Homo sapiens: one gene and its partners. The protein of the gene in region 3 interacts with the protein of the main gene of each other region in a pairwise test. Each region holds a gene or a part of one and is shown on either strand. Other genes may lie near its edges.

The links. Proteins that work in one complex are often made in the same cells at the same time.
Region 1: the proteins of HSF2BP (region 3) and ZGPAT interact in binary tests that used the Homo sapiens proteins (3 or more experiments, as listed by UniProt).
Region 2: the proteins of HSF2BP (region 3) and CIMAP1D interact in binary tests that used the Homo sapiens proteins (3 or more experiments, as listed by UniProt).
Region 4: the proteins of HSF2BP (region 3) and ARHGEF5 interact in binary tests that used the Homo sapiens proteins (3 or more experiments, as listed by UniProt).

Annotation. Positions count from the first base shown.
Region 1 is NC_000020.11:63,732,039-63,734,340, reverse strand, and holds part of ZGPAT (zinc finger CCCH-type with G patch domain-containing protein), read right to left. Parts: intron 1,123-2,302; coding exon 989-1,122; intron 755-988; coding exon 602-754; intron 1-601. UniProt on the Homo sapiens protein: Transcription repressor that specifically binds the 5'-GGAG[GA]A[GA]A-3' consensus sequence. Represses transcription by recruiting the chromatin multiprotein complex NuRD to target promoters.
Region 2 is NC_000019.10:472,184-476,193, reverse strand, and holds the start of CIMAP1D (protein CIMAP1D), read left to right. Parts: upstream 1-1,210; 5' UTR 1,211-1,446; coding exon 1,447-1,573; intron 1,574-3,562; exon of another isoform or gene 3,563-3,692; coding exon 3,693-3,800; intron 3,801-3,885; exon of another isoform or gene 3,886-4,010.
Region 3 is NC_000021.9:43,530,489-43,533,988, forward strand, and holds part of HSF2BP (heat shock factor 2-binding protein), read right to left. Parts: intron 1-3,500. UniProt on the Homo sapiens protein: Meiotic recombination factor component of recombination bridges involved in meiotic double-strand break repair.
Region 4 is NC_000007.14:144,375,902-144,379,401, reverse strand, and holds part of ARHGEF5 (rho guanine nucleotide exchange factor 5), read right to left. Parts: intron 2,283-3,500; coding exon 2,212-2,282; intron 641-2,211; coding exon 536-640; intron 1-535. UniProt on the Homo sapiens protein: Guanine nucleotide exchange factor which activates Rho GTPases. Strongly activates RHOA. Also strongly activates RHOB, weakly activates RHOC and RHOG and shows no effect on RHOD, RHOV, RHOQ or RAC1.

The sequences.
Region 1 (2,302 bases), on a different chromosome or scaffold from region 3:
ACCAGGGACATGGGGCTTCAGAAACCACCATCACTGATCCCTGGGTACACCTCCAACATGCAGACCCCTCCTGGACTCAGCCCGCCATGCTTGGGTCAGGTGACCTCCCACATATATACACACACACGCACACGCATACACACACCCCTCTGGAGAGCTGGACACTGCCCACCAGTTCCCATTCCCGAAACTTCCATGCTGGCTGTCTGGACACAACCTCTGTCTGCCAGGATCCCAGGCACCCAGGTCCCAAGTCTGAGAAGCCATGCAGAGGAGCTGCCCCTCCTGCACTCCAGGCCCCATCAGTTGGTCATTTTCTGTGACTTCCTCGGCAACTCCAGGCCCCTCCTCTCCCATGGCCACAGCCACGACCATGGCCTCCCATCAATGAGACTGTAGCTGTTGCACCCACACTCCTTGAAGATAAAGGCCGCCACGGATCTACCCCTACCCACACGGCCTCCTCAGGCACAGGTGGCACCCTCGCCGCAGTCACACACTCTCCAATAGTTTGGTTAGATGGTTGGTGCCCTCACCGGCCAGGAGCCTCTCAGGGTGACCCCACCTTCCTGGCTCCTGGGCTCCGCAGCTGCTGCCATACCTCTGGCATAGCTGGAGTCACCCGTACCGTCGCTGTCTGAGTCGGACTCTGTGGCCTCTGTGCGCAGTGGGGGCAGGATGCCGTCCCCCTCCACCACGGCCTCCCTCAGCAGCAGCGAGTCAAACTTGACTGTGTAGTAGCCGTTGTCCACATCTGGGGGCAGAGACAAGCTGCAGGTCAGAATCCTTGACAGCAGGTGCCACTGAAGGGAACCACCCTGGACATGAGGAGCAAGGCAGGGCAGAGGCTGAGGGTAGGTGTGCTCATTTCGGGCCCAGAGCCAGAGTCCCGACACTCAACCCAAAGGAAGCAGGGAGCAGCCACACAGTGACAACACACGTGGGGCCTGGGAGGGTGTTCCCGGGAGGCCCCCACGGCCAGCCTCACCGGTGATGCGTGCTGCGTGCCAGAGGCCATCCTGGTGCTTGGCCAGACACGCAGAGCCGGCCTGCAGGGAGCTCAGGTCTGGGTCCTGGAAGGGGCGCAGCTCATCCAGAGAGACCACCTGCCCATGGGAGAACCTGCAGACAGAGCCGTAAGGGGCAGGGCTCAGACATGGGCCACCAGGGGCAAACCAACCCAGGAGCACTGACCCATCCGCCTGGGCACTGTCCTGAGGGAGACAGACACACACGCGTGCGTATACATACACACTCTCACACACTCACGCACACACATACACACGCACACATACACACACACATGCACACACTCACGCACACATACACACATGCACATATACACACGCACATACAGATACACATGCACACATACACTCACACATACACATATATACACACTTGTGCATATACATGCAGGCATATACACACACATGCATATACACACGTACACATACACGCATACGCACACGCGCATATACACATGTACACACACATGCACTCACACAGGCACACACAAGTACACATACACACGCATAAACATGCACTCACATGCATACACACACGCATATACATACGTACACAGGCATACACACACATATACAGACATACACATATACACATACACAAGTACACATGTATACACATGCATACACACATGCACACAGGCATATACACATGTACACACACATTAACACATGTACTCACACGTCATACACATACACAGAGACCCTGACACGCGTATAAACATGCACTCACACATGAACTCATGCAAATACAGATGCAGTCATACATGGATATACGCACACGCCATCTCACCCACACGCGCGCACACGTGCCCTCACCCACACACATACGCCCTCACCCACACACATGCGCACACAAGCACCCTTACCTACACACATGCGCACACATCTCTCACCCACACACACGCACACACAGGCCCTCACCCACACACATGCGCGCACACACACCCTGACACATGCACACACACACCTCACCCACACACGTGCACACACATGCCCCCTCACCCACACACATGCACACACACACGCCCTCACCCACACACATGCGACCTCTCATCCACACACACGTGCACGCACACATGCACCCGCACCCAAACATGCACACACAGATGCACCCGCACCCACACATGCACACACATATGCAGTCACCCACACGCGCACACACATGCACCCTCACGTGTAGACTGTCACGTGCACTCACTCATATATGCATATACACATACATGCACACACATGGCATGCATATACACACATGCATATACACACTCACACTTGCA
Region 2 (4,010 bases), on a different chromosome or scaffold from region 3:
GTAATTAGCTACTAAAAATACAAAAAAATTAGCTAGACGTGGTGGTGCATGCCTGTAATCCCAGCTACTCGAGAGGCTGAGGCAGGAGAATTTCTTGAACCCTGGAGGCGGAGGTTCCAGTGAGCCGAGATCGCGCCACTGCATTCCAGCCTGGGCGGGGGAGCAAGACTCTGTCTCAAAAAAAAAAAAAAAAAAAAAAAAAAAAAATTAGCCAGGCGTGGTGAAACCCCATCTCTACTAAAAAATATAAAAATTAGTCAGGCGTGGTGGCGGGTGCCTGTAATCTCAGCTACTCAGGAGGCTGAGGCAGGATAATCGCATAAACCCGGGAGGCAGAGGTTGCAGTGAGCCGAGATCGCACCAGCGCACTCCAGGCTGGGTGACAGAGTGAGACTCTGTCTCAAAAAAAAAAAAAAATTACACTGCAAAAGGCTCCAAAAAATACAGAAACAAACAAGGAAGAGACAGGAACGTGCATCTCATCTGGCAGTTTTCTGAGCCTCTTCTTGGAGCCTCACGCAGTGGTCGCCTTGAATGTATCAAAATCCATTGTGGTTTAAATCTCGGAGGCATCTGGGAGGCAGTGAGGACGGCTCTCACCTCCCCGCTGTCCTCGCCGCTGCCCCAGGGCCTCTGCACGGCTGCCTCCTCACCTGCTTTGGGACTGTTCAGTTTTACCTTCTCCGTGGGGCTCACCCACACCCACACTGCTACCCTGGGCCCCAAACCTGTCTGCGTTTTCCCTCACGTTCAGTGCCTCCTCATACACCAGACTGTGTTCACTTATCACATTTACTGACGACTTTCTCTCTCCCATCCTGAGAACATCTCCTTCTTTTCCGTCTGTTCGTGTCCAGTTCTCACCACCCCCAACAGAGGCTGGTACACAGTAGGTGCCCAGTACATGCTTTGGCAGGAATGAGTGACAGGATGAGGCAGTGAATGCTTCTTGGCTCAGAGCTGAAACTCCCAGAGTTGTGTACTTGCTGTATGACCTTGGGCTGTGCCTCAGTTTCCCCAGGTGTAGAAACGGGGCCACGCCACCCACGACCCCGCCAGGCCCTCCTGCTGCAAGGCTGTGGGTGTCATGTTTGCAGGTCTAGTTCCCTGGGGCCGGCCCTGGCCCCAGCTGCCCAGCTCTGCCGGCTCCCGGGAGACGCACTCTGCTGACACCGGACTCTTTCCTGGACCATCCAGCCGCCTGGCCGACACTCGATCCCGGCCCCACTTCCAGGCCAGTGTCCGGCCGACCAGCCTGCCTTGGGCCAGGGCCCCACGACTCCCTGCTGCGGGACAAGAGGCCGTCTGTGCGGCTGTGGTCGTGGGAGGGTGTGGTGAGGCCGTGAAGGTGGGGACGGTGCCTGGGCCTGTGGCCGCCAGAGCTGCTGCGGCTCAGAAGGTAGCACCAGGCCCCGTGGGTGCTGTGGGGGCCATCGCCTGCCCACCATGGGGACCCTCAGCTGCGACTCCACCCCACGGCTGGCCACAGCCCCCCTTGGCCGGCGAGTGACGGAGGGCCAGATTCCGGAGACCGGCCTGAGGAAGTCCTGTGGGACGGCCACCCTGGAGAACGGTGCGTGCCAGCCGTGGGGGATGGGTGGGACCTTTTCCTGCTCCACTCCCCATACTTCTGGGGCTTCTGGAATGTTCTGGGAGCCCAGCAGGAGGCAGGAGTTTCAGGCAAGTCCTTGCCCTTCCCCAGACCTCAGTTTTCCTTCCGGCAGGATGGGTGTGGACACGGGGTTGCCGTGAGCCCCGAGTATGTGTCTGTCCAACGGAAGCTGCGTGCTTTGCCAGCCGGGTCCCCTTCCAGGGGCTGTGGGTACAGCAGTGGGCAAAGCCACAGCGATCATGCGGGAGACGCGGGGAGGAGGGAATATTTCCAGCGTGGCCCTCAGGGACGGGCGCCCTAGACAACGTGGGGCAGGGCGAGGGGCGCGTGTGCGGAGGCGGCTCTGCTGGGAGCCACATCAGCTGCTGGCCTCGGTGAGGGCCCAGGACGGGCCGCAGTTTCCTCACCCACAATTAGCGGCTGGAGTCAGGCCCCAAGCCAGGTCCTCGGGCTGGTTCTGTGGTCTCTCCTGATCCCTGTGGCATCGAGATTCTGCAGAAGCCACAACACATGGCGTCTGTGACCGTGTATCTCTGGGAGGCTCAGGCCTCAGTCTCCCCATCTGTGATCGTGTATCTCTGCCTGGGCCTCAGTTTCCCCATCTGTGACCGTGTATCTCTGCCTGGGCCTCAGTTTCCCCATCTGTGACCGTGTATCTCTGCCTGGGCCTCAGTTTCCCCATCTGTGACCGTGTATCTCTGCCTGGGCCTCAGTCTCCCCATCTGTGACCGTGTATCTCTGCCTGGCCCTCAGTTTCCCCATCTGTGACCGTGTATCTCTGGGAGGCTCAGGCCTCAGTCTCCCCATCTGTGATCGTGTATCTCTGCCTGGGCCTCAGTCTCCCCATCTGTGATCGTGTATCTCTGCCTGGGCCTCAGTTTCCCCATCTGTGACCATGTATCTCTGCCTGGGCCTCAGTCTCCCCATCTGTGACCGTGTATCTCTGGGAGGCTCAGGCCTCAGTCTCCCCATCTGTGACTGTGTATCTCTGCCTGGGCCTCAGTTTCCCGATCTGTGACCGTGTATCTCTGCCTGGGCCTCAGTCTCCCCATCTGTGACCGTGTTTCTCTGCCTGGCCCTCAGTTTCCCCATCTGTGACCGTGTATCTCTGGGAGGCTCAGGCCTCAGTCTCCCCATCTGTGATCGTGTATCTCTGCCTGGGCCTCAGTTTCCCCACCTGTGACCGTGTATCTCTGCCTGGGCCTCAGTTTCCCCATCTGTGACCATGTATCTCTGCCTGGGCCTCAGTCTCCCCATCTGTGACCATGTATCTCTGCCTAGGCCTCAGTTTCCCCATCTGTGACCGTGTATCTCTGGGAGGCTCAGGCCTCAGTCTCCCCATCTGTGACCATGTATCTCTGCCTAGGCCTCAGTCTCCCCATCTGTGACCGTGTATCTCTGGGAGGCTCAGGCCTCAGTCTCCCCATCTGTGACCGTGTATCTCTGGGAGGCTCAGGCCTCAGTTTCCCGATCTGTGACCGTGTATCTCTGCCTGGGCCTCAGTCTCCCCATCTGTGACCGTGTATCTCTGCCTGGGCCTCAGTTTCCCCATCTGTGACCATGTATCTCTGCCTGGGCCTCAGTTTCCCCATCTGTGACCATGTATCTCTGCCTGGGCCTCAGTCTCCCCATCTGTGACCATGTATCTCTGCCTAGGCCTCAGTTTCCCCATCTGTGACCGTGTATCTCTGCCTGGGCCTCAGTTTCCCCATCTGTGACCGTGTATCTCTGCCTGGGCCTCAGTCTCCCCATCTGTGACCGTGTATCTCTGGGAGGCTCAGGCCTCAGTTTCCCCACCTGTGACCGTGTATCTCTGGGAGGCTCAGGCCCCAGTCTCCCTGTCTGTGCCCCAGGGTGAGGGGGGCTGCTGTCCCCAGCTTTTCCTCTGTGATTCATGTCTGACTCACAATGCAGGCATCACATTTTGTCCCCGACGGGCAGCAGCCTCTTGCTCCCCGGGGCCCCCAATCCTCACCATGGAGGGAGAGGGGAACCCAGGCTAAGGCTCAGGAGCTGGGTCCAGGGCTCCTTCTTCGGGGAATCTGGGCCCAGGAGGTGACCTGAGGGCTTTGGGCTGCAGGCTCGGGGCCAGGCTTGTATGTCCTGCCGTCCACCGTGGGCTTCATCAACCACGACTGCACCAGGGTGGCCAGTCCCGCCTACTCGCTCGTCCGGAGGCCCAGTGAGGGTAAGGCGGGCGAGTGGGCGGCTGGAGGCTTCCCTGATCCTCCAATCTCCCCCCAGGAGCACTGATGGGTCTCCTTACCCCTTAGATCCAGGCCCCCAGTTAGTGCGGCAGGAAGCAGGCAGGGCTGGGCTGTACAACCTGCTCCACCTCCTACTTACTGTGAGACCTCAGGCAAGCTGCTGTCCCTCTCTGTTTTTTCATTGATAATGA
Region 3 (3,500 bases):
CTCAATAGTCTAATAACCATCATCTTCAAATATTACAGTCATACAATTTTAAAGTGTTAAACTAGAAAGATGAGGGCTTTCTCTGTTTGCTAGTGAGGACTAAACTCTGATTTTTTTTATCTTGCCCAAATTCCTATCTAAGGGGTCTGGGGAGTCATGTCCTACAAATCACAAATTCTCATCAGATGGGTTTTATTTAACCCTATATATCATGACTTTCCAACCTGACTCTGGCATAACATTATGAGACAAGAAAGAAAATAAAAATACTTTACCCCAAAATATGTTTCTTTGCCATATTTTGAAATGGCCCTGCAAAGCTGTTCTTTGTGGGGGAAAATCTGCATTTGTAAAGAATCTCTACTAACATAGCTAGATCTTTTTCTTCGAGACCCTCCTAATCCTAAAGAGATTAACTAAGATCTGAATAGGAAACATCTGTCATCTATTGTCTCTAAGGCAGCCACCATAAGACTTCAAAAGAACTTGGATGTCCACAATCTTTACCTTAACCTGAACATTCCCTTTCTATCAATCCCAGGTCTTTATCAATCAGAAAATGTTTAAATTCACCTATAGCCTGGAAGCCCCACGCCCCCCAGCTTTGTCCCACTTTTCTGGACCAAACCAATGTATTTCTTAAATGTTTTTGATTGATGTCTCACACCTCTCTAAAATGTATAAAGCCAAGCCGCACCCAACTACCTTGGGCACATGTTCTCAGGACCTCACTCATATTTGGCTCAGAACAAATCTCTTCAAATATTTTGCAGAGTTTGACTCTTTGTCGACAGTAGCATTCTGTCCACTTATAAGATTGTTTTAAAAAGTATTACTTCTTTTTCACTCCAATTGCAGCAAATCCCTCAGGGACCACATACAGATACAGCACTTATCAGGGCCACTGAGTTTACACAATGTCACTGGGTATATAAAATTCACGTTGTTTATTTTCCATGGGAATGGCCCCAGGACTTATAGAATCTGGTAGCCTTGCATACATTGTAGCAACCACTAAAAAATAGCTAGACAAACCCACTGGAAGCTTCAATCCATCACCAGAGTGGAGCCAACTTTCCTTACCATTCCTCTCTACTGGCAGCCTTTACGATGCCGTAAATTCACTCCTTGACTGGGTACTGCAACTGGAACCAGGCTCAAAATCAGCACCTCTTTCTTAGCACATTTACTTAACAAATAAAAAAATTAAAAAAAAACCTTTTAAGATGTAGACTGAAAGAGCAGACTGAACAGTCTCTCAGTGGGAGCTGCCACAGCACTAAGCCCTAACAAGAAGCTTCTCACCTACAGAATCAGAAGACTGCTGTGGCCAGGGAAGATAAAAGGCAATCTGCTCTAGCCCTCAGGGAGGGTCCAGGAGCCATCTTAAGCCAGCCTGTTAGAGTCCTCCTACTTTGGGGGAAGGGAGGGGAACTTTCTCTAGTAGAGACCTGCCAAAGATAAGGGGCAGCTAAGGCAGACACAGAGGCAAGGCCAAAAGCCATGGGTGAAGACGCTTTGGCAACTCAGCCCTCATCCTAAGCTCAAGGAAAGGTTAGAGGAATTTGAAGCCAGTGGGATGGAAGGTACATACACAACAACAAAACCCAGACCCACCTTAACTCCCCAACAATGAAAACCCAGCGGAAAAAGAGGAGTGGCCATTCCTGAATATAACACTATCTACCCACCTCATTCCCCTCTACAGAGAGGGTACGCATGGCCCAGAGGCCAAAGGTAGCCCATGACCCGTTTCTGTACAGCCTGCAAGCTAAGAATGGTTTTACTTTTTTTTTCTTCTTCTTCTTCTTCTTTCCTCCTCCTCCTCCTCCTCCTCCCCCCCCCTCCTCTCCTCCTCCACCACCTCCTCCTCCCCCCCCCCTCCTCCTCCTCCTTTTGGAGACAGGGTCTTGCTCTGTCTCCCAGGCTGGAGTACTCTGGTACAATCATGGCTCACTGCAGTCTCAATCTCCTGGGCTCAAGCCATCCTCCCACCTCGGCCTCCCAAGAAAGAGGGACCACAGAACATGTGGCCACGCCCAGTTAATTTTTCACATTTTTTTGTAGAGACGGTGTCTCACCACACTGCCCAGGCTGGTATCAAACCCCTGGGCTCAAGCAATCCTTCCACCTCAGTCTCCCAAAGGGCCAGAATTAGAGGCATGAACCATTGCAGCCTGCCAGGTTTTACATTTTTTAAGGGTAATTTTTTAAAAGTAAAAACCAGAAGAATAACATGCAACAGGGACTACACGTGGCTCTCAAAACTCAAAATATTTATTTGGCCCATTACAGAAAAAGTTTTTTGACCTTGCCTACTGCCCTCCACACAATGTCCAACACTGAAATCAAAAATTACAATGAAGAGGCAATGGAGGCCAGGCGCAGTGGCTCACACCTGTAATCCCAGCACTTTGGGAGGCCAAGGCGGGCGGATCACGAGGTCAGGAGTTTGAGAACAGCCTGGCCAACATAGTGAAACCCCATCTCTACTAAAAATATAACAATTAGCTGGGTGTGGTGGCGCACGCCTGTAATCCCAGGTACTCAGGAGGCTGAGGCAGGAGAATCCCTTGAACCCAGGAAGCAGAGGTTGCAGTGAGCTGAGATTGCGCCACTGCACTCCAGCCTGGGCAACAAAGTGAGACTCTGTCTCAAAAACAAACAAACAAACAAACAAACAAACAAACAAAAGAAGGCAAAGGAAACAAAAGGCTCATTGTCAAGTGACAATCAACAGAAGCAGACACACAGATAACCTGGAATAATAATACAGGAATTTCAGAAAAAGAATCTGAAATAAATATGATCAATAGATGGGAAAACACTGTTTTAAGGTACTTACACTATACCTGAAGCAGCGGATTATTATTTAAAGGTAAACAGTCATGCAATGTATAACATTTCAGAGAGCTTCATTGTCAAATTCTATCAAAAAATTAGAACAGAAATAATAGAAATTTTAAACAAGTCTTCCAGAAAACAGAAAAGGAGGAAATAAGTCAACTTTTTTTTATGAGGCCAGAATTACACTGACACCAAAACTAGATAAAGATGTTAAAATAAAAGAACAGACCAATATCCCTCATAAACAAAGACACGAAAATCCTAAACAAAAAAATAGCAAATTGCATTCAGCAATATATAAAAAGGATAATACTTCACAGCCAATAGACACTTATTCTAGGAATGGAAGGCTGGCTCATTATTTGCAAATCAGTCAACATCACCTACCGTAACAACAGACTAAAGAAGAAAAAAAAAATTATCTCTTCAATAAATGCAGAAAAGCCTTTTGACAAAATTCAACATCTGTTCATAACAGTAATAATAATAATAAACCCTCAACAAAACAGGAATAAAAAGGAACATCCTGAACCAGATTAGGGGCATCTACAAAAAACACACAGCTAACATCATACTTAATGATAGAAGACTGAATGCTTCTTTCCTAAGATGACGTACAAGGCAAGAATATCCTATCACCCCTATTCAAAATC
Region 4 (3,500 bases), on a different chromosome or scaffold from region 3:
CCCATCTCTACTAAAAATACAAAAATTAGCCAGGTGTGGTGGCTCACGCAGCTACTTGGGAGACTGAGACAGGAGAATCACTTGAACCCAGGAGTTGGAAGTTGCAGTGAGCCAAGATTGCGCCACTGCACTCCAGCCTGGGCAACAGAGCAAGACTCTGTCTCAAAAATAATAATAATACATAAAATAAAAAAATAAAGGAGGAAAACTTGGACACAGACACAGGAAGGCAGCTAGCCACAGGAAGACAGAGGCAGAGATTGGAGGGATGCTGCCACAAGCCAAGGAACAGCTGGGGCTACCAGACTGGAAAAGGTACGGAAGGATCTTCCCTACAGGTTTCAAAAGACGCGTGGCTCTGCCCACACCTTGATTTGGGACTTCTTGCCTCCAGAACTGTGAGAGAATGCATTTCTGTTGCCATAAGCCACCCAGTCCATGGTACTTTGTCATGGCAGCTGCAGGAAGTGAACACACTCCCAGCACTGCCCTGCCTGCAGTGCCTGGCCTGCTGCTCACGCATGCTCCCGCTTACCGTCACTGCTCTGCTGAGTCACCATCACCACGTCGGCTTTCTCCAGTGCCAATTCATCATTCTCTCGGGGCTTGTAGGCTCGAAGGCACTGTACCTGGGGGGAGTCTTTGGAAGAGAAGAGTGTGAAGAGAGGTTAGGAGAGGCAGGGGATTGGAACACAGACAGGGACTTGGAGGGGGGTGGCGTGGGAGGACTTGAGATAGAGACAGATTTGGGCTGTTGAAAGTCACAGACAAAAGAGGAAATTTGAAAATGGTTAATAAAGAAATAGACATACCAGAAATGAAATGGACCAAAAATTCCACTTCTCCAGAGGAGACGGGTTGAGAAATACATGTGATCATCTCAAATACCTGAGATCCAGCTAATGACCCATCTTCCCTCTGAAACCGTCCCTGACTCTAGTCTTCAATGGGTTCTGAACTCTTTTAAGACTGCTTGTTCATGCCAAGGCATTTATCCCTTATTTAACTGCTACATGGACGTGTTTTGCCTCTCCAACTGGATTATAAAATCTGAGTCTGTGTCTTATTCTTCATTTTCTTCCCAGTACCAGATGTGGAACCAAGAAAGACTTAACTAGTGGTGTCCCAGGTTTGACCTAAGCCAGAGACTGAAAGCCCTGGAGCTTCAGTTTACTCATCTATCAGTGATCAAGATGGTTATTGATCAAGGTTGATCAGATGAATCTTGAGGACATTCAAGATTTCTCTATTTCTATGTTTTTGAGAACCAGGAGACATGTCCATAGATCTGAAGCTCAAGAAAACAAGCCTCAGAGAATGCTTCACCTATCAGTATTCCATCATATGTGGGTTTATGGCTCTTTTTTGTTACTACACTGCCTTGATTCTCTTGTAAAATAAATGGAATACTGCATTACTATTTGCTTTCTCAAGATCCTCCCCATCTGCCATTCACAAGGTCAAAATGAAGGAGGAAGAATGCTCCTGCCCTCCTCACCCACTGGGGAACTGAAGCCAGCAGATGGAGTGCACAGTGAGCAAGTTAACAGCGTTCAGTTACTACACGGCTCTCCTACTTCATTCCCAGGGTTCCTTGTAGTTGTTTGTTCTTTTCAGTCACTAAAGGTCCAGGGTTGAGGTCAGATTCTCTCTGGATTTAAATTAGGGAATCTTTGCTGGAGGACAACTGTGGGGCTGACATGAGAGGCATAAGAAGTCCAGTCTTGGTGTGAACACAGACACATACATAATGTGTGTGTGCCTGTGGCTCCCCATGGGCACCCAGAAGCCTGGGGTAGGTGACCTCAGGTCATCCTCTTAGGTGTGGTCAAGATAGATCTGGGGTGCTATCCTCCTGCACACCTTCTACCACCGTCAGGCTTTCTTCCCCTACCCCAACAAGACCTTCAAGCAGGTAAAATCTAGGCAAAATAATGTCAGCTTAGACTTAAGGGGACAAATATTTTTAAAAAGAGCAAACTATTGCCCAAGGAAGGGAATGTATGGGGAAGGGGGACTGCCATAGTGATGAGCAGTTTTAGGCGATATATTTCAGGTTTTTAAGCTCTAGAGGCCAATCTTCCACCCTGACATTTTACGGAATATCAATAAATGAAAGCCTAGAGTTCCCACCCAGCCCTTTAAACTCCTGTATCCAAAGGTGACATCTGACCCTGCTTTCTTTTCTCTCCCTCTTAGACCCTCACTCACTGTAACACTCCAGAAGGTCCAACTCCTCTCTTGGCATGGCCAAGGCTGAGATCCACCGAAGCTTTTCACTTCTGAGAAAACAAAGCAGGGTCATAGCATCAATTGTGGGGGTGTAGGAGGAGGGCCAAGGATGGGGATGGCAAAAGACTGTGGGAAGGACTTATCTAGTTCCATGACTTCTATCAAACACTATATAGGACTCTTTTTGGTTGGAAACATGACACAATCTTGAACTATATGTGAATGTGTCTTGTCACACTTTACTTTTCCTCTTCTCTTTCCAGAATTATCCTCCTAATGGCTTCTCATATCTTCCAAGTTGGGGCGTAATGTTCATTAGTCATAAAGTCTGGAGATTTTCTGTTTTGGAAATTGTGCTAAGCGAAGTGTTCATTTCAGTTTAGATTCCCTCCATCATTTGGCATGATTCTTGACACTCGCTTGCCTATCTCCCTTCAACTAACTATCTCAGAGATGATCATTGTTTCATAATAATAATTAGATCAGGGAGATATGTCTACTGTTTTATTTGTTGTTGTTGCACGGTGTAATCCAAGCTTAGGTTTGTAATCATCTGAAGGTTTCTGCATTCTGTTAGCCTCTGTGCCCAGTTGTGCCTAGGTAACTGGGAATGGACTATTACTGTTCCAGGCACAGTGCCCAAAGCACCAAACCAACAACATGCATCTGCACCTGATTATTTGACTTATGTGCTGTTTTGCACACAAACTCCGATACTAGTCCTTCTGTTCAATAAATGAGAACAGGTGTTATCGGTCCCACTCTGAAGTATCTTCCAAGGGACAAAACTGAAAAAGTGTCTACAACATAGGGATCCTCAAACACTTAGATACGTCAAACTTTTAAATGACTGTTCATATATCTTTTATAATAGCAATAACAGCTACAGGCTTTTACATGTTCATTATTGCAGGCACTGTGTTCCAGATTTTATAGGTACTATTAATACTCTCAAAAATGTATGTCTGTGTGAATGTATTTTATTTTATTATTATTGAAAACATGAGCAAATCAGCATTCTCAACACTATGGATTTCTGGTCAATAGAGGACTGGTTTGGAAGATGGGAGCACAGAAAGTAAAAGTCACCCAGCACTTGTCTTATTCACATCTGTGCCCACCAGCTGGGGCATAGAAGGGTTTCTGCCTCAGGCATGGAGGCATGTGCTCACAGATACCAGTATTCCAATTCCTTGCTCACTCCATACCAGTCCTTCTCCTTTCTGATACTACACAGACCTTGTCCCTCTTGAGTAAAGAGTATAAAA